Linked DNA regions of Homo sapiens: region 1 is linked to region 2. The links come from fine-mapping of genetic effects on gene expression. A gene starts in region 2. The other region holds a variant in brackets. All regions are shown on one strand. Distances are from middle to middle. Region 1 overlaps TYK2 (tyrosine kinase 2). Region 2 holds the start of TYK2 (tyrosine kinase 2).

The links. PIP is the estimated chance that this variant, and not a neighbour inherited with it, causes the effect.
Region 1: its variant is fine-mapped to the expression of TYK2 in whole blood (TOPMed, PIP above 0.99).

What each region holds. Positions count from the first base shown.
Region 1 is chr19:10,346,724-10,358,189 of GRCh38, reverse strand. It overlaps TYK2 (tyrosine kinase 2), which reads left to right. Exons shown (of 25, transcript NM_003331.5): 16 at 52-187; 17 at 272-426; 18 at 1,472-1,622; 19 at 3,581-3,678; 20 at 3,956-4,148; 21 at 4,544-4,662; 22 at 5,092-5,264; 23 at 5,639-5,756; 24 at 7,028-7,138; 25 at 7,222-7,657. The coding sequence ends at 7,356. Among named protein-coding and RNA genes, the nearest start is that of ICAM3, 13 kb to the right of the region's middle. RefSeq lists a silencer at 4,229-4,278 and an enhancer at 4,180-4,943. The variant C/T (reference allele first, on the strand shown) is at 4,488.
Region 2 is chr19:10,376,858-10,388,111 of GRCh38, reverse strand. TYK2 (tyrosine kinase 2) reads left to right here and starts at 7,540. Exons shown (of 25, transcript NM_003331.5): 1 at 7,540-7,732; 2 at 8,333-8,497; 3 at 9,686-9,898. The coding sequence starts at 9,706. RefSeq lists enhancers at 1,520-1,579, 1,660-2,049, 6,911-7,574, 7,483-7,642.

The sequences.
Region 1 (11,466 bases), 30 kb after region 2:
GGCGTCTGTGCCTCTCCTGAGTGGCCACACCCCCTCTCCTGCCCACCTCAGGAGAACAAGAACCTGGTTCATGGTAATGTGTGTGGCCGGAACATCCTGCTGGCCCGGCTGGGGTTGGCAGAGGGCACCAGCCCCTTCATCAAGCTGAGTGATCCTGGCGTGGGCCTGGGCGCCCTCTCCAGGGAGGGTGAGTACCTGAGGGGACCTGGGCACAGTGGGGGGCTTCCCCTGCTCCTTTCACCCTTGGTGACCTCTGACCTTGGCCTCCCAGAGCGGGTGGAGAGGATCCCCTGGCTGGCCCCCGAATGCCTACCAGGTGGGGCCAACAGCCTAAGCACCGCCATGGACAAGTGGGGGTTTGGCGCCACCCTCCTGGAGATCTGCTTTGACGGAGAGGCCCCTCTGCAGAGCCGCAGTCCCTCCGAGGTATGTCTAGGAGACCCTTGGGCCCTCCCCGCAGTGGGGGCCCCTCCAAGAAATCCAGAGGACAGAATCAGAGCTCAAAGCTGCATCCCTTCTGGCCTCGTGACTTCAAGTCTCTCTGGGCTACCAGCAGGTGGGCCACTCGCTGGGGCTCAATGTAGTCCCAGCCTTTTTAGGTCCTTGTGGAAGTCACTTGTGCCTGGCACACAGAAGGCAAGTAAGAGACTTGATTTCAGTTTTAGGCAGAGTGACCAGGGCAGCGATGGGAGACGCCCAGGCTGCAGAGTGGGGAAGAAGGGCTGAGGATGCGCCTCACCCAGCAGTGGGGTCAGACAAGGCTTCCCAAAGGAGGTTCATGAGTGTGGTGGTTTTATTTTGAGACGAAGTTCCACTCTAATTGCCCAGGCTGGAATGCAATGGCGTGATCTCAGCTCACTGCAACCTCTGCCTCCTGGGTTCAAGCGATTCTCCTGTCTCAGCCTCCCGAGTAGGGGGGATTACAGGCACATGCCACCACACCCGGCTAATTTTTGTATTTTTTGTAGAGATGGGGTTTCATTATATTGGTCAGGCTGGTCTCAAACTCCTGACCTCAGGTGATCCGCCCACCTCGGCCTCCCAAAGTGCTGGGATTACAGGCATGAGCCACAGTGCCCGGCCCCAGAAGAGGTTTTATCTAAGTGTAGAATTATGCCAACAAGCCTGGCTAGGAAGGGCAGCCTAGGCAGAGTGCATGGCCTGTGCAAAGGCTGAGGCTTCAGTGTATTAAGGAGCTGTGGTCTACAGGAGGGGCAGGAGGGAAGCTTGGGGCAGGAGGCTGACTGTGACACTCCAGCTCTGCATAATCACTGGACCTGGGTCCCAGTCCTGGTTCTACGGCTGTGAGCACGTCCTCCCACTTTGTGGAGCCTCAGTTGCCTCATCTGTATAATGGAACTGATAAGAGCGGGCACCTGGCGGTCCACTCTGGGGACTTGACTCTGCCTCTTGGGGAACGGGTTGGGGGCGAGGGGAGGATGTTGACTCCTCTGGGTCCCTTTCCCAACAGAAGGAGCATTTCTACCAGAGGCAGCACCGGCTGCCCGAGCCCTCCTGCCCACAGCTGGCCACACTCACCAGCCAGTGTCTGACCTATGAGCCAACCCAGAGGCCATCATTCCGCACCATCCTGCGTGACCTCACCCGGCTGCAGCCCCACAGTGAGCTCCATCCCAGTGCTGGGACCCTGGGGAAGTGGGACGGGGCTGGGATCCCTGCTGTATGCCTATAGCGCACGAGAGGTCTCTGCACAGTGGTTCAGGGTGTGTGCCAATTTCTTGCAGTGGCATTCATAAGCATGCCCTGCCTGGCTGCCCTGAGCTCTCATTAATGTATTTATTTATTTATTTGCAATGGAATCTTGCTCTGTCACCCAGCCTGGAGCGCAGTGACGTGATCTTGGCTCACTGCAACCTCCACCTCCCAGGTTCAAGCAATCCTCCCACCTCAGCCTCCCAAGTAGCTGGGATTACAAGCGTGTGCCACCATGCCCGGCTAATTTTTGTATTTTTAGTAGAGGTGGGGTTTTGCCATGTTGGCCAGGCTGGTCTCAAACTCTAGACCTCAAATGATCTATCTGCTTCAGCCTCCCAAATTGCTGGGATTACAGGCGTGAGCCACTGCGCCTGGCCTCCTTAATGTTTTGTCTGGGGAGAGACACAACTTCTTTGGATTAGAGAATTAGACCACTGCAGTTTTTTTTTTCTTTTTAAAAAAGTTTTGTATTGTTCTCTTTAAAAAATTAATATGCTCTTTTTTCTTTTTTTTGAGACGGAGTCTCACTCTGTTGCCAGGCTGGAGTGCAGTGGTGCAATCTTGGCTCACTGCAACCTCCGTCTCCCAGGTTCAAGTAATTGTCCTGCCTCAGCCTCCTGGGTAGCTGGGACTACAGGCGCCCACCACCACGCCGGGCTAATTTTTGTATTTTTAGTAGAGACGGGAATTCACCATGTTGGCCAGGATGGTCTCAGTCTCTTGACCTCGTGATCCACCCGCCTCGGCCTCCCAAAGTGCTGGGATTACAGGCATGAGCCACTGCGCCTGACCTATTTTCTTTTTTTTTTTCTTTCTTTCTTTTTTTTTTTTTTGAGATGGAGTTTTGCTCTTGTTGCACAGGCTGGAGTGCAATGGCACGATCTCGGCCCACTGCAACCTCCGCCTCCTGGGTTCGAGCAATTCTCCTGCCTCAGCCTCCCGAGTAGCTGGGATTACAGGCGTCCACCACCACACCCAGCTAATTTTTGTATTTTTAGTAGAGACGGGGTTTCACTGTGTTGGCTAGGCTGGTCTCAAACTCCTGACCTCAGGTGATCCACCCTCCTCAGCCTCCCAAAGTGTTGGGATTACAGGCGTGAGCCACCACGCCCGGCCTAATATGCCATTTTCAACTGGTCATATCACATTTTTCTTTCTCTTTTTTGTTTTAAAGACTAGGTCTTGCTGTGTTGCCCAGGCAGGAGTGTGGTGGTTATTCAGAGGCACGATCATGGCTCACTGCAGCCTGAGACTCCTGGGCTCTAGGGATCCTCCTGCCTCGGCCTCCCAAAGTGCTGGGATTACAGGTGTGAGCCACCACGCCTGGCCAGTTTTTCTCTTTTCTCTATGAAATATCTGTGCCCTCTACCCAATCTCGGAACTTCCAGATGTCAGGTTTTTCTGTTTTTTCTTTTTCTTTCTTTCTTTCTTTTTTTTTTTTTTAAAGACAGTGTCTCTCTGTGGCCCAGACTCACTGCAGCCTCAAAACTCCTGGGCTCAAACGATCCTCCTACCTCAGCCTCCTGAGTAGCTGGGACCACAGGCATGCACCACCACACCTGGCTAATTTTTTTTTTTAACTTTTTTGTAGAGAGGGGGTTTCACCATGTTGTCCAGGCTGGTCTTGAACTCCCGGGCTCAAGTGATCTTCCCGCCTCGGCCTCCCAAACAGGTGTCAGTTTTGATGCAGCCAACTCTGCATCATTTTGTACAATAAGTGGACTCTTTCAGCTGTTGCAGGAAAAAGTTTTCTTACCTCTAGAATCGGATCCTGGGGTAGCTGTGGCTGGCTTTGTGACTCCCAAGTGTGGGCCTGCTGGGGAAAGGATCGGGGTCAGGCCTTTACCCACCGCAACTCTTCCAGATCTTGCTGACGTCTTGACTGTGAACCCGGACTCACCGGCGTCGGACCCTACGGTTTTCCACAAGCGCTATTTGAAAAAGATCCGAGATCTGGGCGAGGTGAGGGACGGGCCTGAGCTGCTAAAAGGCCCGCCTGGTCGGGAAGGAGTTTGGGGGTTGAGGATAAATTCCTACCTAAGGTGATTCTCAGGAGATGTGGGTGGGACCCTCTGCTTTGAGGGAGGCCTAGGTGCCAAGGAGTCTTAATAGAGCGGAGTAGGCGGGGCCTGGGGTATTCCGAAAGGATCTGCCTGGAGGAGTGGCCCGGGAAATCGGGGGTTGGGGAGTGGTGCAGGGATTGGGGAGGTGGAGCTGACCCTCGTGCGCTCCCGACCAGGGTCACTTCGGCAAGGTCAGCTTGTACTGCTACGATCCGACCAACGACGGCACTGGCGAGATGGTGGCGGTGAAAGCCCTCAAGGCAGACTGCGGCCCCCAGCACCGCTCGGGCTGGAAGCAGGAGATTGACATTCTGCGCACGCTCTACCACGAGCACATCATCAAGTACAAGGGCTGCTGCGAGGACCAAGGTGGGCGGGACCCGGCGAGTCCTAGAGACTTGAGGGGGCGTGGTTAGAGCGTGGGTGTGGCCTTGTGGGCGGGGCCAGTCTGGCCTAGCCAATTAGAGACTCTCAACCCCAGGCTGCAGTACGCGGTTCTTGGCATCTGGGTGAGCGTGGCTGGGCTGCCTCCTTCCCATCTGGGGGGTGCTACCTGCTGGGGCCAGGATGGACGGGAGCCACCAGCAGCTCCCTCAAGTGAGAATGGGGTTCTGGATGGGTCCATCCCACCTGAGAACTGGGTCTAGTGTGCGCGGGTCTTGGCCTTCCCTCCCGACCTTGGAGGGGCTCTGCTGGGCTCAAGGTAGG[C/T]GGTCCCCGGCCCGCCCTCTATCGTCCCCCACCGGGGCCGCCCCTCTCCGCGGCAGGCGAGAAGTCGCTGCAGCTGGTCATGGAGTACGTGCCCCTGGGCAGCCTCCGAGACTACCTGCCCCGGCACAGCATCGGGCTGGCCCAGCTGCTGCTCTTCGCCCAGCAGATCTGCGAGGTTGGTCGGCCCCGCCCCTGCTTCTGGAGCTTGCCCCTTCCTCTTCAGCTTGGGCTGGCCTGAGCGATCCGGTGCAGTCTGCTCTCACGCTCCGCCCCTGCTCGTTTGCCCAGGCTGTCTTGTCCTTGCACTGACCTCCGAACTGTTTGGCTTGCTTGGCCACACCCCCTCCTCCCAAGGGACCACGCACAGCCGGCTCGGCCCCTCCCAACTCGCCCTCCTGCCCAGCTTTGCTCGTCTAGCCCCGTCCCTGCTTTCTGGCTCAGCCTCCTTTTGCTTGGTGCCACGTGCCATCCGGCCCTCTCCAGCGGCCGGGTAGCCACCGGCCTGACCTGACTGTCCCCCAGCCCTCCTGGCTGCTCAGGTCCTGCCGCCGCCCCCGGCCGAACCCCGCCCCACTGAAACTCACGAGCCCTGCCCCGTCCCCAGGGCATGGCCTATCTGCACGCGCAGCACTACATCCACCGAGACCTAGCCGCGCGCAACGTGCTGCTGGACAACGACAGGCTGGTCAAGATCGGGGACTTTGGCCTAGCCAAGGCCGTGCCCGAAGGCCACGAGTACTACCGCGTGCGCGAGGATGGGGACAGCCCCGTGTTCTGGTGACCAGGCGGGGTGCAGTCTGAGGGGGTGCTGGGGTCACTTGGAACAGGCAGGGTGGAGTAGACGGATGCTGGGTATCATGATAGGGCATGATCCCAGTGAAGCGCGGCGGGGCCTAGCGGTGCGGGGGTGGGGCCTATGGAGGCAAGGGGCGGTGTATAGAGTGCGGCTTGGCCTGGTGGGCGGGGTTAACCCGGCCTAGCCAATGAGCGGCCTAGCCAATGAGCATATCACCCCGCTCAGGCTGCGCTCTTAAGGGTGGGTCCCAACTGAGCCCAGAGGGTCCTTCAGTCTCAGGTGAGGGCTTCAGCCTGGTCTGATCCCCAAGCCCTCAGTGCAGCCCCCCGTGGCCTGAGTGCCCCCCTCCCCCTAGGTATGCCCCAGAGTGCCTGAAGGAGTATAAGTTCTACTATGCGTCAGATGTCTGGTCCTTCGGGGTGACCCTGTATGAGCTGCTGACGCACTGTGACTCCAGCCAGAGCCCCCCCACGGTGAGAGCCAGGCCCGCAGCCCCACCGGGAGTTTGCTAGAGCAATTAGAAAGGCATAGGCTGGGCCAGGCGCGGTGGCTCAAGCCTGTAATCCCAGCACTTTGGGAGGCCGAGGCGGGCGGATCACGAGGTCAGGAGATCGAGACCAACCTGGCTAACACGGTGAAACCCGTCTCTACTAAAAATACAAAAAAAATTAGCCAGGCGTGGTGGCGGGCGCCTGTAGTCCCAGCTACTCAGGAGACTGAGGCAGGAGAATGGCATGAACCCGGGAGGCGGAGCTTGCAGTGAGCCGAGATCTCCCGACTGCACTCCAGCTGGGTGACAGAGCGAGACTCCGTCTAAGACAGGACAGGACGGAGAGAGAGAGAAAGAAAAGAAAGGAAAGAAAGGCATAGGCCGGGCGCGGTGGCTGACACCTGTAATCGCAGCACTTTGGGAGGCCGAGGCGGGCAGATCACGAGGTCAGGAGATCGAGACCAGCCTGGCCAACATGGTGAAACCCCGTCTCTACTAAAAATACAAAAATTAGCCGGGCGTGGTGGCAGGTGCCTGTAATCCCAGCTACTCAGGCGGCTGAGGCAGGGAGAATTGCTTGAACCCGGTAGGCGAAGGTTGCAGTGAGCCGAGATCATGCCACTGCACTCCAGCCTGGGTGAAAGAGCGAGAGACTGTCTCAAAAAAAAAATTCTGGACGGTAAGAACAATCTGCTGTGAGGCTTAATAATAACGGCAAACACCTGACTCACGCTTACTCTATGAATATTAGTTTAACGTTCACAGTAATCCCAGGTGGCAGATGTTATTACCCTATTTTACGGATGAGAAAACAGGCCCAGAGAAGTGAACTCAAATTCAAAGTCACACAGCTGAGAAGTGTAAGAGGTGGGATTGGAACCCATGCAGTCGATTTCATGAAGTTGCAGAGTGATTTCTTTTTCTTTTTTGAGATGGAGTTTCACACTTGTATCCCAGGCTGGAGTGCAATGGCACAATCTCGGCTCACTGCAACCTCCGCCTCCCAGGTTCAGACGATCCTCCTGCCTCAGCCTCCCAAGTAGCTGGGATTACGGGCGCCTGCCATTATGCCCAGCTAATTTTTGTATTTTTAGTAGAGATGGGGTTTCACCATGTTGGCCAGGCTGGTCTCGAACTCCTGACCTCAGGTGATCCACCCACCTCAGCCTTCCAAAGTGCTGGGATTACAGGCATGAGCCACCGTGCCTGCCTTTCATTGCCTCTTGAAAAGAGCTTGTCTTGTTTATACTGTAGAAATTCCTTGAGCTCATAGGCATTGCTCAGGGTCAGATGACAGTTCTGAGACTCACTGAGTTGCTGGAACGAGGGGAGAGGCTGCCACGGCCCGACAAATGTCCCTGTGAGGTGAGACTTCCTTTGTCTTTCCCTGACCCCACTATCCTGCTGTGGAGAGGGCAGCCCCCACCAGCCCTGGTTTTTCCTTCTAGGTCTATCATCTCATGAAGAACTGCTGGGAGACAGAGGCGTCCTTTCGCCCAACCTTCGAGAACCTCATACCCATTCTGAAGACAGTCCATGAGAAGTACCAAGGCCAGGCCCCTTCAGTGTTCAGCGTGTGCTGAGGCACAATGGCAGCCCTGCCTGGGAGGACTGGACCAGGCAGTGGCTGCAGAGGGAGCCTCCTGCTCCCTGCTCCAGGATGAAACCAAGAGGGGGATGTCAGCCTCACCCACACCGTGTGCCTTACTCCTGTCTAGAGACCCCACCTCTGTGAACTTATTTTTCTTTCTTGGCCGTGAGCCTAACCATGATCTTGAGGGACCCAACATTTGTAGGGGCACTAATCCAGCCCTTAAATCCCCCAGCTTCCAAACTTGAGGCCCACCATCTCCACCATCTGGTAATAAACTCATGTTTTCTCTGCTGGAGCCTGTGATTTTTGGAGCCCTCTTCAAGAAAGCTGGGTTAGCTGGGAGTCTGGTCTCCTGTGGACAGCAGCTAGCATGAGACAGCGCAGAGGTGGCTGGATTCAACTGTTTAACTTTTTTTTTTTTTTCTTTTTGAGACAGAGTCTTGCTCTGTCGCCCAGGCTGGAGTGCAGTGGCGTGATCTAGGCTCACTGCAAGCTCCGCCTCCTGGGTTCACACCATTCTCCTGCCTCAGCCTCCCGAGTAGCTGGGACTACAGGTGACCGCCTCCATGCCTGGCTAATTTTTTGTATTTTTAGTAGAGTTGAGGTTTCACCTTATTGGCCAGGCTGGTCTTGAACTCCTGACCTCAGGTGATCCACCTGCCTCCGCCTCCCAAAGTGCTGGGATTACAGGTGTGAGCCATTGCGCCTGGCCAATAACTACTTGTTGAATACACAAAGTATTTGGTCGGGGCGGTCACAAGCCACATAGATTAGACTGCCAGTTTCACCCTTTCACATTTGTGTGACCTCAGGCTAATGGCTTCACCTCTCTGGGCCTTAGTCCTCCATTATGGGAGCTTCACACTTGCTATCTCATAGGACTCATGTAAAGAGCTCATGAGGTGGTGTCTGTGAAATGCTGAGCAGAAAGACATGCAAACAAGTGCTTAATAAATATACAATATTGGCCGGGCACGGCAGCTCACGCCTGTAATCCCAGCACTTTGGGAGGCCACGAGGATCACAAGGTCAGGAGATTGAGACCATCCTGGCTAACACGGTGAAACCCCGTCTACTAAAAATACAAAAAAATTAGCCGGGCGTGGTGGCGGGTGCCTGTAGTCCCAGCTACTCGGGAGGCTGAGGCAGGAGAATGTCATGAACCCAGGAGGCGGAGATTGCAGTGAGCCGAGATTGCACCACTGCACTCCAGCCTGGGTGACAGAGAAAGACTCTGTCTCAAAAAAATAATAATTAAATAAATAAATATACAATATTATTGTTGACTGGATGCAGTGGCTCATTGCTTGTAACCCCAGCACTTTGGGAGGCTGAGGCAGGAGGATCCCTTGAGTCCAGGAGTTCGAGACCAGCCTGGGCAACATAGGGAGATCCTGTCCGTATTTTTATTTATTTATTTATTTGTTTATTTATTTTTGAGGCAGTTTCACTGTTCTCCAGGCTGGAGTGCAATGGTGCTATCTCGGCTCACTGCAACCTCCCCCTCCTGAGTTCAAGCGATTATCCTGCCTCAGCCTCCGGAGTAGCTGGGATTACAGGCGCACGCCACCACACTCGGCTAATTTTGTATTTTTAGTAGAGACGGGGTTACATCTTGTTGGTCAGGCTGCTCTCAAACTCCTGACCTCAGGTGATCTGCCCGCCTCGGCCTCCCAAAGTGTTGGGATTACAGGCGTGAGCCACTACACCTAGCCTATATTATTTTAAAATAAAAATTTTAAAAATGAAGTTGGCTGGATAGAGTGGCTCACGCCTGTAATCCCAGCACAGCACTTTGAAAGGCCAAGGCGGGCGGATCAGTTGAGGTCAGGAGTTTGAGACCAGCCTGCCCAACATGGCAAAACCCTTGTCTACTAAAAATACAAAAATTAGCTGGGCATTGTGGTAGGCGTCTGTAATCCCAGCTACTTGGGAGGCTGAGGCAGGAGAATCACTTGAACCCAGGAGGCAGAGGTTGCCATGAGCCAAGATCAAGCCATTGCACTCCAGCCTGGGTGACAAGAGCAAAACTCTGTCTCAAAAAAAAATAAAAAAAGACACATGCACACGTATGTTTATTGCGGCACTATTCACAATAGCAAAGACTTGGAACCAACCCAAATGTCCATCAATGATAGACTGGATTAAGAAAATGTGGCACATATACACCATGGAATACTATGCAGCTATAAAATAGGATGAGTTCATATCTTTTGCAGGGACACGAATGAAGCTGGAAACCATCATTCTCAGCAAACTATCACAAGGACAGAAAACCAAACACCGCATGTTCTCATTCATAGGTGGGAACTGAACAATGAGAACACTTGGACACATGGCAGGGAACAACACACACCCACACCGGGGTCTGTTGTGGGGTAGGGGCCTGCGGGAGGGATAGCATTAGGAGAAATACCTAATGTAGATGATGAGTTAATGGGTGCAGCAAACCAACATGGCACATGTATACCTATGTAACAAACCACATTGTGCACATGTACCCTGGAACTTAAAAAAAAAAAAAAAAAAAAGGAGTCTGAAACCATGAACAATCATCGTTATTTACCAAGTTTGTTCTTGTTGAGGAAAAAAATACAAAAATTAGCCAGGTGTGGTGGCACACACCTGTAATCTCAGCTACTCTAGAGGCTGAGGCAGGAGAATTGCTTGAACTGGAAGGCAGAGTGCATTGAGCTGAGATCGCACCACTGCACTCCAGCCTGGGCGATAGAGCAAGACTGTCTGAAAAAAGAAAAGAAAAAGGTATTATTGTTATTCTGGTGTTTGGCAAAGCGTTTCTACTTAGCCTGTGTGACTTGAGATGGTGGGTCAGACACATTTGTGAAAGGCAGTTAAATATCCCCAGAAGGACTTCTTTTGTGGGGCTGGGGACTGGGTCTCGCTCTGTCACCCACACTGGAGTACAGTGGTGCTATTATAGCCCATGGCAACCTTGACCTCCCAGGCGCAAGTGATCCTCCCACCTCAGCCTCTGTAGGAGCTGGGACTATAGGCTCCTGCCACGTCACCTGGCTAATTTTTTTTTTTTTTTTTTTTTTTTTTTGAGAGGGAGTCTCACTATGTCACCCAGGCTGGAGTGCAATGGTACGGTCTAGGCTCAGTGCGACCTCCACCTCCAGGGTTCAAGCGATTCTCCTGCTTCAGCCTCCCCAGTAGCTGGGATTACAGGCGCCCGCCACCACGCCTGGCTGATTTTTGTATTTTTAGTTGAGACAGGATTTCACCATGTTGGCCAGGCTGGTCTCGAACTCCTGACCTCAGGTGATCCACCCACCTCAGCCTCCGAAAGTGCTGGGATTACAGGTGTGAGCCACCATGCCTGGCCATCTGGCTAATTTTAAAATTTTTTGTAGACACAGCGTCTTACTCTGCTGCCCAGCCTGGTCTCAAACTCCTGGGCTCAAGTGATCCTCCCACCTTAGCCTCTTGAGTAGTAGGATAACCACTCAATTTGTTTAGAGCAGTTTTAGGTTTACAGCAAAGTTGAGTGGAAAATACAGAGTTCTCCTATATCCCCTCCCTCCCATCCCCCTGCACAACCTCCCTTGCTGACCTATCCTGTACCACAGTGATACATGTGTTAGAATCTATGAACCTCGGTGACTCATGCCTGTAATTCCAGCACTTTGGGAGGTCAGGAGTTCGAGACCAGCCTGGGCAACATGGTGAAACCCCATCTCTACTAAAAATACAAAAACTAGCCAGGCATGGTGGCAGGCACCTGTACTCCCAGCTACTTAGGAGGCTGAGGCAAGAGAATTGCTTGAACCCAGGAGGTGGTGGTGGAGGTTGCAGTGAGCCAAGATCATGCCACTGCACTCCAGCCTGAGCGGCAGAGCAAGACTCTGTCTGAAAAAAAAAATCTATGAACCTCCACTGACATATCATTTTCTCCTGAGGTCTGTACTTTACATGAGGGTTCACTCTTGCTGTTGTACGTTCTGTGGGGCTGGACAAACGTATAAGGCATGAACCCACCAATATAGTATCACATGGAGTAGTTTCACTGCGCTAAACGTCATTCATGCGCTGCCTGTTCATCCCTCTCTTCTCACTAACCCCTGGCAACTGCTGATCT
Region 2 (11,254 bases):
GGACTACAGGCGCCCGCCACCACACCCGGCTAATTTTTTGTATTTTTAGTAGACACGGGGTTTCACCGTGGTCTCGATCTCCTGATCTCGTGATCTGCCCTCCTCGGCCTCCCAAAGTGCTGGGATTACAGGTGTGAGCCACTGTGCCCGGCCCTTTTTTTTTTTTTTTTTTTTTTTTTTTGTGAGATGGAGTCTTGCTCTGTCGCCCAGGCTGGAGTGCAGTGGCCTGATCTCAGCTCACTGCAAGCTCTGCCTCCCGAGCTCACGCCATTCTCCTGCCTCAGCCTCCTGAGTAGCTGGGACTACAGGCGTCTGGCACCACGCCCGGCTAATTTTTATGTATTTTTAGTAGAGACGGGGTTTCGCTGTGTTAGCCAGGATGGGTTTGATTTCCTGACCTCATGATCCACCTGCCTCAGCCTCCCAAAGTACTGGGATTACAGGCGTGAGCTACCGCACCCGGCCTAATTTTTGTATTTTTTGTAGACACAGGGTTTCACTATGTTGGCCAGGTTGGTCTCAAACTCCTGACCTCAAGAGGACTGCCCGCCTTGGCCTTCCGAAGTGCTGGGATTACACACATGAGCCACCATGTGTGGCCCCCCCCTTTTTTTTTTTTAAGAGATGGGATCTGGCTCTGTCACCCAGGCTGGAGTGCAGTGGCACAATCATAGCTCACTGCAGCCTCTAACCTCTGGGCTCAAGTGATTCTCCTGCCTCAACCTCCTGAGTAGCTCAAATTACAGCCAAGAGACACACACTGCATCTGGCTATCCACCACCAGTCCTTTTATTTATTTTTTTTTTGAGACCGAGTCTTGCTCTGTTGCCCAAGCTTAAATGCAGTGGCACGATCTCGGCTCACTGCAACCTCCATCTCCCAGGTTCAAGCGATTCTCCTGCCTCAGCCTCCTGTACAGGCATGCACCACCACACCTGGCTAATGAAGTGTATTAACTCATTTGATGTCCCTGACATGCCTCTGGGTTTGGGACTAAATAGTCACATCTTGCAGAGGAGGAAACTGAGGCACAGTGGGGTTAAGGGGCCGCCCAGGATCACACAGTGATGGAGCTGGGGCTTGAACTCAGCCCGTCTGGTGCCAGCCTTCATGTGTGTAAGTTACTCCTCTGTATCCTCTCAGGCCAGCACCGAGTGTCCCATTTGGGGCTGCTCCTGAGAATTTTCTAGAGAACACAGGTTCACACACGTGCCCAAAGGAGCGTAGAATTTTTGTGGAAAGATTCCCAGGAGGCTGAGTGCGGTAGCCTCATGCCTGTAATCCCAGCACTTTGGGAGGCCAAGGCGGGTGGATCACCTGAGGTCAGGAGTTCGAGACCAGCCTGGCCAAGATGGTGAAACCCCGTGTCTACAAAAAATACAAAAATTAGCTGGGCGTGGTGGCAGGCGCCTCTAATCCCAGCTACTCGGGAGGCTGAGGCAGGAGAATCCCTTGAACCCAGGAGGCAGAGGTTGCAGTGAGCCAAGATCGTGCCATTGTACTCCAGCCTGGGCGACAAGAGGAAAAACTCTGTCTCAAAAAAAAAAGATTTCCCAGGAAATCCATCTCATGGTTGTTTTGAGGAGGAGACTGGCTGTTCCCTGAACTTTCTCACTCATGAAAACACAAAGGTATTTTACTTTTAATCCATCAACTCTTGGCTTTTCCCAGGTCCCAGGGGGCTCTGAGGAGGCCCCTCCCTGCAGCCCTTGCAGAGCCAGGGGAAGCCCCCAGCTTTTGTTCCTTCTGAGAAACCCGCCGTAGTGGCGTGGCCAACTGTCCTGGCCTGCCCAGGACTGTCCCAATTTTAGCATGGAAAGCCCCCCATTGGGGAACCCCCTCAGTCCTGGGAAACCCCCTCCTGTTAGTCACATGTGGGGTCTGGGGCCTCCCTTATGGACCAGGTCTGAGTTTGGGCAGGAGGCGCCAGGCCTTGGCAAAACAGCCTCCTTAGCCTCTTTTCTTCAATTGTCAAGTGGGGGTGCTGATACCACTTGCAAAGAAACTGAGAAGAGGCCAGGTGCAGTGGCTGGTGCCTGGAATCCCAGCACTGTGGGAGGCCGAGGCGGGCGGATCACGAGGTCAGGAGATCGAGACCATCCTGGCTAACCCTGGTGAAACCCCGTCTCTACTAAAAATACAAAAAATTAGCCGGGTGTGGTGGCGGGCACCTGTAGTCCCAGCTACTCGGGAGGCTGAAGCAGGAGAATGGCATGAACCTGGGAGGTGGAGCTTGCAATGAGCCGAGATCACGCCGCTGCACTCCAGCCTGGGCAACAGAGTGAGACTCCATCTCAAAAAAAAAAAAAAAAGAAAGAAACTGAGAAGACCCAGAGATGGCTAAATACCCACGCTCGGCCCCAGTGTGCAGGCTGGGAAAATGTCAGCTTTATTTATTTATTTATTTATTTATTTATTTATTTATTTATTTGATAGGGTCTTGCTCGGTTGCCCAGGCTGGAGTGCAGTGGTGCGATCACAGCTCACTGCAACCTCAACCTGTGGACTCAAGCGATCCTCCCACCCCAGCCTCCCTAGTAGCTGGGACTACAGGCGTGTATCACCATGCCCAGCTAATTTTTAAATTTTTTTTGTAGACACGAGGTTTCACTATGTTGCCCAGGCTGGTCTGGGACTCCTGGGTTCAAGCGATCCTCCTGCCTCTGTCTCTCAAAGTGCTGGGATTACAGGTGCCAGCCACCGCACCAGCTCATTGTTAGAATTGATATCGTTACTGGGAGTATGACTAGCATTGTTATTATTAATCGCCTCATGTGGCATTTCCTTCTAGTTCCTTTGGGAGCGGGGAATACCGGGTCCCAGGCCCACTCGGCCCACTGTGTTCTAGCATCTAATCACGGAGCATTGCCCCAATGGCTGTTGAAAAATCTGGCACTCTCTAGGCCGGGCACGGTGTCTCACACCAGTATTACCCAGCACTTTGGGAGGCCGAGGTGGGTGGATCACCTGAGGTCGGCAGTTCAAGACCAGCCTGACCAACATGGAGAAACCCCATCTCTACTAAAAATACAAAAAAGTAGCCGGGCGTGGTGGCGCATGCCTGTAATCCCAGCTACTTGGGAGGCTGAGGCAGGAGAATCGCTTTAACCCAGGAGGCAGAGGTTGTGGTGAGCCGAGATTGTGCCATTGCACTCCAGCCTGGGCAACAAGAGCGAAACTCCCTCTCTCAATAAAAGAAAAAAGGAAAAAGAAAAATCTGGCACTCTTGGCTTCTAGGTACTGTACTCTAAGCGGCGACAGAGAGGAAGCTCACAGCCAGCCCTCCCGCAGCAGGCAGGACAACAGCCAGGGATTCCTGGCTCCCAGGCCATTCATTCCCCTCCAGCTGTGGCTTCTTAAGCCACCTACTGGGCTGGATGCACAATCTCAGGCACTGAGGGCTTAGCAGACAACCAGACGGACCTCTTTCTGGTGCGGTCCTAGAACCGCAGACAGGCAATAGAACTTGTGCTCAAAGAAACTTCCCAGGGGCTGGGCACGGTGGCTCATGCCTGTAATCCCAGCAGTTTGGGAGGTCAAGGCCAGAGGTCCACTTGAGCCCAGCAGTTTGAGCCCAGTAGTTTGAGACCAGCCTGGGCAACATAGTGAAAACCCATTTCTAAAAAAATTACACACACACAAAAGTTAGCCAGCCGGCCAGGCGAGGTGGCTCACACCGGTATTCCCAGCACTTTGGGAGGCCAAGGCGGGAGGATCACGAGGTCAGGAGATCAAGGCCATCCTGGCCCACATGGTGAAACCTCGTCCCTACTAAAAAATACTAAAAAATTAGCCGGGTGTGGTGGCATGCGCCTGTAATCCCAGCAGTTTGGGAGGTCAAGGCGGGAGGACCACTTGAGCCCAGTAGTTTGAGACCAGCCTGGGCAACATGGTGAAAACCCATTTCTTTTCCTTTTTTTTTTTTTGAGATAGAGTCTCACTCTGTCGCCCAGGCTAGAGTGCAGTGGCGCGATCTCAGCTCACTGCAAACTCCGCCTCCCAGGTTCAAGTGATTCACCTGCCTCAGCTTCCCAAGTAGCTGGGATTATAGGCACCCACCAACACACCCGGCTAATTTTTGTATTTTTAGTAGAGACGGGGTTGGTGGAAGCCCATTTCTATAAAAAATACACACACACAAAAGTTAGCCAGGCGGCTGGGCGCGGTGGCTCACTTCTGTAATCCCAGCACTTTGGGAGGCCGAGGCGTGAGGATCATGAGGTCAGGAGATTGAGGCCATCCTGGCCAACATGGTGAAACCCCATCTCTACTAAAAAATACAAAAAAATTAGCTGGGTGTGGTGGCACACGCCTGTAATCCCAGCTTCTCTGGAGGCTGAGGCAGAAGAATCGCTAGAACCTGGGAGGCAGGGATTACAGTGAGCCGAGATCGTGCCACTGCACTTCAGCCTAGCAACAGAGCAAGACTCCGCCTCAAAAAAAAAAAAGTTACCCAGGCATCGTGATGCACATCTGTAGTCCCAGCTACTCAGGAGGCTGAGGTGGAAGATTGTGAATGGTGAATCTGGGAAGTTGAGACTGCAGTGAATTGAGATCACAGCACTGCACTCCAGCCTGGGCAACAGAGCGAGATTCTTGTCTCAAAAAAAAAAAAAAAAAAAAAAAAAAGAAAGAAAGAAAGAAGAGAAACCCAGCTGGGCGCGGTGGCTCACATCTGTAATCCCAGCACTTTGGGAGGCCAAGGCGGGTGGATCACCTGAGGTCAGGAGCTCGAGACCAGTATGGCCAACCTGGCCAAACCCTGTCTCTATTAAAAATACAAAAATTAGCCAGGCGTGGTGGTGCACGCCTGTAATCCCAGCTACCGGGGATGCTGACGCAGGAGAATTGCTTGAACCTGAGAGGCAGAGGTTGCAGTGAGCCAAGATTGCGCCACTGCACTCCAGCCTGGGCAACAGAGCAAGACTCTGTCTCTTTAAAAAAAAAAAAAAAGAAAGAAACTTCCCATGAAATGTCAGGTTGCAATAAGGACTCTGAAGAAAATACAGCAGAGCCCAGGAGGTCAAGTTGCCCAGGCTGGAGTGCAGTGGTGTGATCACGGCTCACTGTAGCCTCAACCTCCTGGGCTCAAGCAATCCTCCCACCTCAGCCTTCGGAGTAGCTGGGACTAACTAATTTTTTTTCCCCCCGAGATGGAGTCTCACTCTGTAGCCCAAGCTGGAGTGCAGTGGTGGGATCTCAGCCCACTGCAACCTCCACCTCCTGGGCTCAAGCGATTCTCATACTTCAGCCTTAGACTAATTTTTTTTATTTTGGGTAGAGATGGGGTCTTGCTATATTGCCCAGGTTGGTCTTGAACTGGGCCCAGACAGTACTCCTTCTTTAGCTCCCTGAAGTGCTAGGTTTATAGGGATGAGCCACTGCATCCAGCCAGGACAAGTCTCTATCAGCATTTTATTTTATTTTATTTTATTTTATTTTTGAGACAGAGTCTCACTCTGGCGCCCAGGCTGGAGTGCAGTGGCGCAATCTCGGCTCACTGCAAGCTCCGCCTCCCCGGTTCACGCCATTCTCCTGCCTCAGGCTGCCACTACGCCCAGCTAATTGTTTGTATTTTTAGTAGAGACGGGGTTTCACCGCCTTAGCCAGGATGGTCTCGATTTCCTGACCTCATGATCCGCCCACCTCGGCCTCCCAAAGTGCTGGGATTACAGGCGTGAGCCACTGTGCCCGGCCTCTATCAGCATTTTCTTTCTTTTTCTTTTTCTTTTTTTTTTTTTGAGACAGAGTTTAGCTCTTGTTGCCCAGGCTGAAGGGCAATGGTGTGATCTCGGCTCACTGCAACTTCTGCCTCCCAAGTTCAAGCGATTCTCCTGCCTCAGCCTCCTGAATAGCTGGGATTACAGGTGCCCACCACCATGCCCAGCTAATTTTTGCATTTTTAGTAGAGACAGGGTTTCACCATGTTGGCCAGTCTGGTCTTGAACTCCTGACCTCAGGTGATCCGCCCGCCTCCACCTCCCAAAGTGCTGGGATTACAGGTGTGAAAGAGACCATTCCCGATCTCTTTCAGCATTTTCATACTGAATGTCCACAGCTGCCCTGTGAGGAGGCTTTTTACCCATATTTTCTGACTCAGAGAGAAGCAGCCACATGTCCCTTGGCCATGGCAGTTAAGACCAACTCCATGGAGCTGGGTGTCTTAGCTCACATCTGTAATCCCAGCACTTTGGAAAGCCAAGGCAGGATGATTGCTTGAGGCCAGAAGTTCAAGACCAGCCTGGGCAACATAGCCAGACCCCATCTCTACAAAAATTTAAAAATTAGCCACAAAATTTAAAAATTAACAACAAAAGGGCCGGGTGCGGTGGCTCACGCCTGTAATCCCAGCGCTTTGGGAGGGTGGATCACGAGGTCAGGAGTTCGAGACCAGCCTGGCCAAGATGGTGAAATCCCATCTCTACTAAAAATACAAAAATTAGCCGGGCGTGGTGGCGGGCGCCTGTTGTCCCAGCTACCCAGGAGGCTGAGGCAGGAGAATCGCTTGAATCCGGGAGTCTGAGGTTGCAGTGAGCCGAGATCGCAGCATTGCACTCCAGCCTGGGCGACAAGAGCGAAACTCCATCTTAAAAAAAAAAAAAAAAAAAAGTGGAAGATGAGGAAGTTGATCAGACATCAAGGATGAGCGGATGACTTAATAGGCTTCTTTGCTAAGACTTGGCTGGGCAGGTGAAAGACAAAGTCGAGGAGTGGTTATGGTGTGGCACAGAAGAAGGGTCAGAGGACGGTCTTTGTTACCTCTTCATGCCTGAGTTTCTTCCTCTGTGAAATGGGGATAATAAGAGCCGCCATACAGGGAATTGCTGCTAGGATCAAATGAGATAATGTATGTGAAACGCTCTGGCTGTAGGCTTCTCAGCAAATGGGCACGACTTGCGGAGTGGGGATTTGAATTCACGTCTGGCGGGATGTCCAAGCTGCTACCCTGACCGCTAGGGAGCTTCAGAGGACAGGGCTGCAGGTGATCAGGAAGAGGACTGGGGCAGGTGGGCGAGGAATGCCTCCCAGGAGTGAAGGAGGGGGAATTCTAGTCAGCAGGATGGAGTCGGCCAGGTAGAAACGAGGGAAAGGAGACAGGACCGGATGGAACGGGGAAGCCAAAGGGCAGGGCGTCGGAGGGTTGAATGGTGGCCGGTGCAGCTTTGAACACCGAGGTGAGGACATGCAGCTGTGTCCTAGGGTCAGGACCGTACACGCCTGACCCAATTCCACAGCACGGAGGGGAACTCCAGGATCCGGCCGCGTTGCCCACACACTTCGCTCTCCCTCCCGCCTCTCGCAAGCCCCTCCCCCGTCTCCGTCCACCGAGTGCCAGCCAATAGCAGAAGCGACAGCGCATCTGGGTGCCGACTCAGCCAATCGCGGCTGAGTGACGAATGAGCCCCAGGACCAATGAGAGTGCCGCCACCATGGCAAAAAAAAAAAAATCCAATGGTGACGAGCAGGGAGAACAGAGCAGCTGCCAATGGGCGTGTGCGTTTCAGGCGGCCAATGGGAGGAGGCGTCTCGGCGGGGGACAAGCAGTAGCTACCCGCGGGAGCGGGGAGGGGTCCGGGTTCGAGCTTGTGTTCCCCCGGAAGGGTGAGTCTGGACGCGGGCGCGGAAGGAGCGCGGCCGGAGGTCCTCAGGAAGAAGCCGCGGGGACTGGCTGCGCTTGACAGGCTGCACTTGGATGGGAGCACCTGGTGCCTCGGGACTGCTCCGATGCCCGGTGGGTGCACATCCCAGTTCCCGCCGTTGCCGGCCGGGTTTAGAGGTTTTGGGGGGAGGACATGGGGGCGTGCAGCCTTCCCAGTTGCAAACTTCACTCCGACCCTGTCTTCAAAGCTGGGTCTGGGTCCAGTGGGGACGAGAAAGGAGGAAGGAGGAAGTAGGCTCCGCGAAAGCCCCATCCCCGGGATCTCATCTATAACATGAATAGGTATTAATGGCAAAGGCTAATTAAGCGCTTACTGTATACCAGGCACTTTCTCTGCCTCCTCGCGTTAAATCCTCCCAGCAGCCTTTTGAGGTAGACACTGTTACATGCCCATTTTCCAGATGAGGAAACCAGCAACATGGGTGGAAGTGACAGCCCCTCCACTTCCATACTGGCGCCCTCAGGAGGCTCAGGCCCTGGATTGGGGGGATGGAGCTGGACATAAACTCTCCTAGGCTTTGGGGAGTCAACAGGGACTGAGGTCACTCATGGGGGTAAATGTGGGAGAGGAGAATTGTGGCCTGAAAGAGGCCATCACCACGATGAAACTAATAACAATTATGTTATTCTTGTTTTGGTCATATTTGTTCTTTTTGTGTGTGCCTGAATCAGGGTCTGTGCTGAATGTGTAATATGCGGAACTATATTGAAACATTACAACCATCTTTTGATGGCAACACCCTGAGGACCTCCCTTTTCCAGATGGGGAAACTGAGGCCCAGAATTGCTAAGTGGCTTGCTTGAGTTGACACAGGGAGCTCCAGGACTCACCCTCAGGTATGTTTGACCACATCTGCCTGTCTGGTTATTTTGGGGAGGTGTGTTAAGAGCAGATTTTTATTTTACTTTTTATTTATTTATTTATTTATTTATTTATTTATTTATTGTATTTTAGTAGAGATGGGGTTTCACCATGTTGGTCAAGATGGTCTCAATCTCCAGACCTCGTGATCTGTCCGCCTTGGCCTCCCAAAGTGCTGGGATTACAGTCATGAGCCACCGCGCCTGGCCCTTTTTATATATTTTTATTACTTATTTATTTATTTATTTATTTATATTTTTAGAGTCAGGGTCTCACTCTGTCACCCAGGCTGGAATGCAGTGGTGCGATCACTGCTCACTGCAGCCTCCAACTCCTGGGCTCAGGAGATCCTCCCACTTCAGCCTCCCGAGTAGCTTGGAGTACAGATGTGCACCCCCACGCCTGGCTAAATTTTAAAAATTTCTTGTAGAGGCCGGGCACAGTGGCTCACGCCTGTAATCCCAGCACTTTGGGAGGCCGAGGCGGGTGGATCACCTGAGGTCAGAGGTTCAAGACCAGCCTGGCCAACATGGCAAAACCCTGTCTCTACTAAAAATACAAAAATTAGCCCGGTGTGGTGGCAGGCGCCAGCTACTCAGGAGGCTGAGGCAGGAGAATCACTTAAACCCAGGAGGCAGAGGTTGTGGTGAGCAAGATTGTACCATTGCACTCCAGCCTGGGCAACAAGAGTGAAACTCTGTCTCAAAAATAAGATAAGATAAGATAAGATAAGATAAGATAAGATAAGATAAGATATAAAATAAAACGTCTTGTAGAAACAGGGTCTTGCTATATGGCCTAGGCTGGTCTCGAGCTCCTGGGCTCAAGCAATCCTCTTGCCTCAACATCCCAAAGTCCTGGGATTAGAGGCGTGAGCCACTGTACCTGGCCAGAGCAGATTTTTATATCTGTGTCAATTTGTGGAAAGAGAGGAGGGTTCAGTGTTATTGTTGATGAGAGATCTAGGTGGGGATGCATACCCCAACCCTGTCCAATAAATGTGGAAAACGAGACTCAGAGAGGGAATCGGGTCTCTAATGTCATGCCAAGATGGGAGCCCAGAATCTTCCCCTCAGGCCTTAGCTGGGGTGGGTGGAAGGTTGAAGAGCTAACAGGGGTCTCTGGGCTGAGACTTGGGAGCTGACAGATTGTCCCCTTTCCAGCTGAGCCACCTGCCGGGAGCATGCCTCTGCGCCACTGGGGGATGGCCAGGGGCAGTAAGCCCGTTGGGGATGGAGCCCAGCCCATGGCTGCCATGGGAGGCCTGAAGGTGCTTCTGCACTGGGCTGGTCCAGGCGGCGGGGAGCCCTGGGTCACTTTCAGTGAGTCATCGCTGACAGCTGAGGAAGTCTGCATCCACATTGCACATAAAGTTGGTGAGTCTGGGGCGTTGGCACCATGGGGACTGGGGTGGGTGTGCAAGCAGCAGCTGGGCCCCATCCATCCGTCTATCCACCCACCCACCCATCCACCCACCCATCCACCCACTCATCCATCCATCCATCCATCCACCCATCCACCCACCCATCCACCCTCCCAACCACCCATCCATCCACCCACCCACCCATCCATCCACCCATGCATCCATCCATCCTCCCATCCACCCATCCACCCACCCATTCACCCACCCATTCACCCATCCACCCACCCTTTCACCCATCCACCCATCCACCCATTCATCCACCCACCCACCCACCCATCCATCCACCCACGCATCCATCCACCCACCCACCCACCCATCCATCCACCCACGCATCCATCCATACATCCACCCACCCACTCATCCATCCACCCACCTATCCACCTATCCATCCACCTACTCACCCACCCATCCACCCACCTATCCACCCACCCACCCATCCACCCATCCATCCACCCACCCATTCATCCATCTATCCATCCATCCACCCATCGATCCATCCATACCCACCCATTCATCCATCCACCCATCCATCCACCCACCCATCCACCCATCCATCCACCCATCCATCCATTCATCCATCCATCCATCCACCCACCCACCCATCCATCCACCCACCCACCCATCCATCCATCCATCCATCCACCCACCCACTCACCCACTCACCCACCTATCCATGCATCCATCCATCCACCCACCCATCCATCCTCCCACCCATTCATCCATCTATCCATCCATCCATCCATCCATCCATCCATCCATCCATCCACCCACCCACCCACCTATTCATCCATCTATCCATCCATCCATCCATCCATCCATCCATCCATCCATCCATCCATCCACCCGTTCATTCGGTGAACATTTTGTAAGCATCTACTGTGTGGCAGCTGCAAATCACTGCCTTTGTAGAGCTGAAATTTTAGTAGGGAGGACAGCAAGAAATATAATAAATCAGAAAACTTGGCCAGGTGCAGTAGCTGACACTTGTAATCCCAGTACTTGAGGAGGCCCAGGCAGGAGGATTGCTTGAGGCCAGTAGTTGGAGACCAGCCTGGGCAACATAGGGAGACCTTGTCTCAACAAAATAATTTTTAGAAATTAGCCAGGCATGGTGGTACATGCCTGTAGTCCCAGCAACTTGAGAGCCTGAGGCAAGAGGATCGCTTGAGCCCAGGAGTTCAAGCCTGCAATGAGGTATGGTTTCGTCACTGCACTCCAGCCTGGGTGACAGAGTGAGACCCAGTGTCATTAAAAAAAGAAAGTCAGGCCGGGCGCGGTGGCTCATGCCTGTAATCCCAGCACTTTGGGA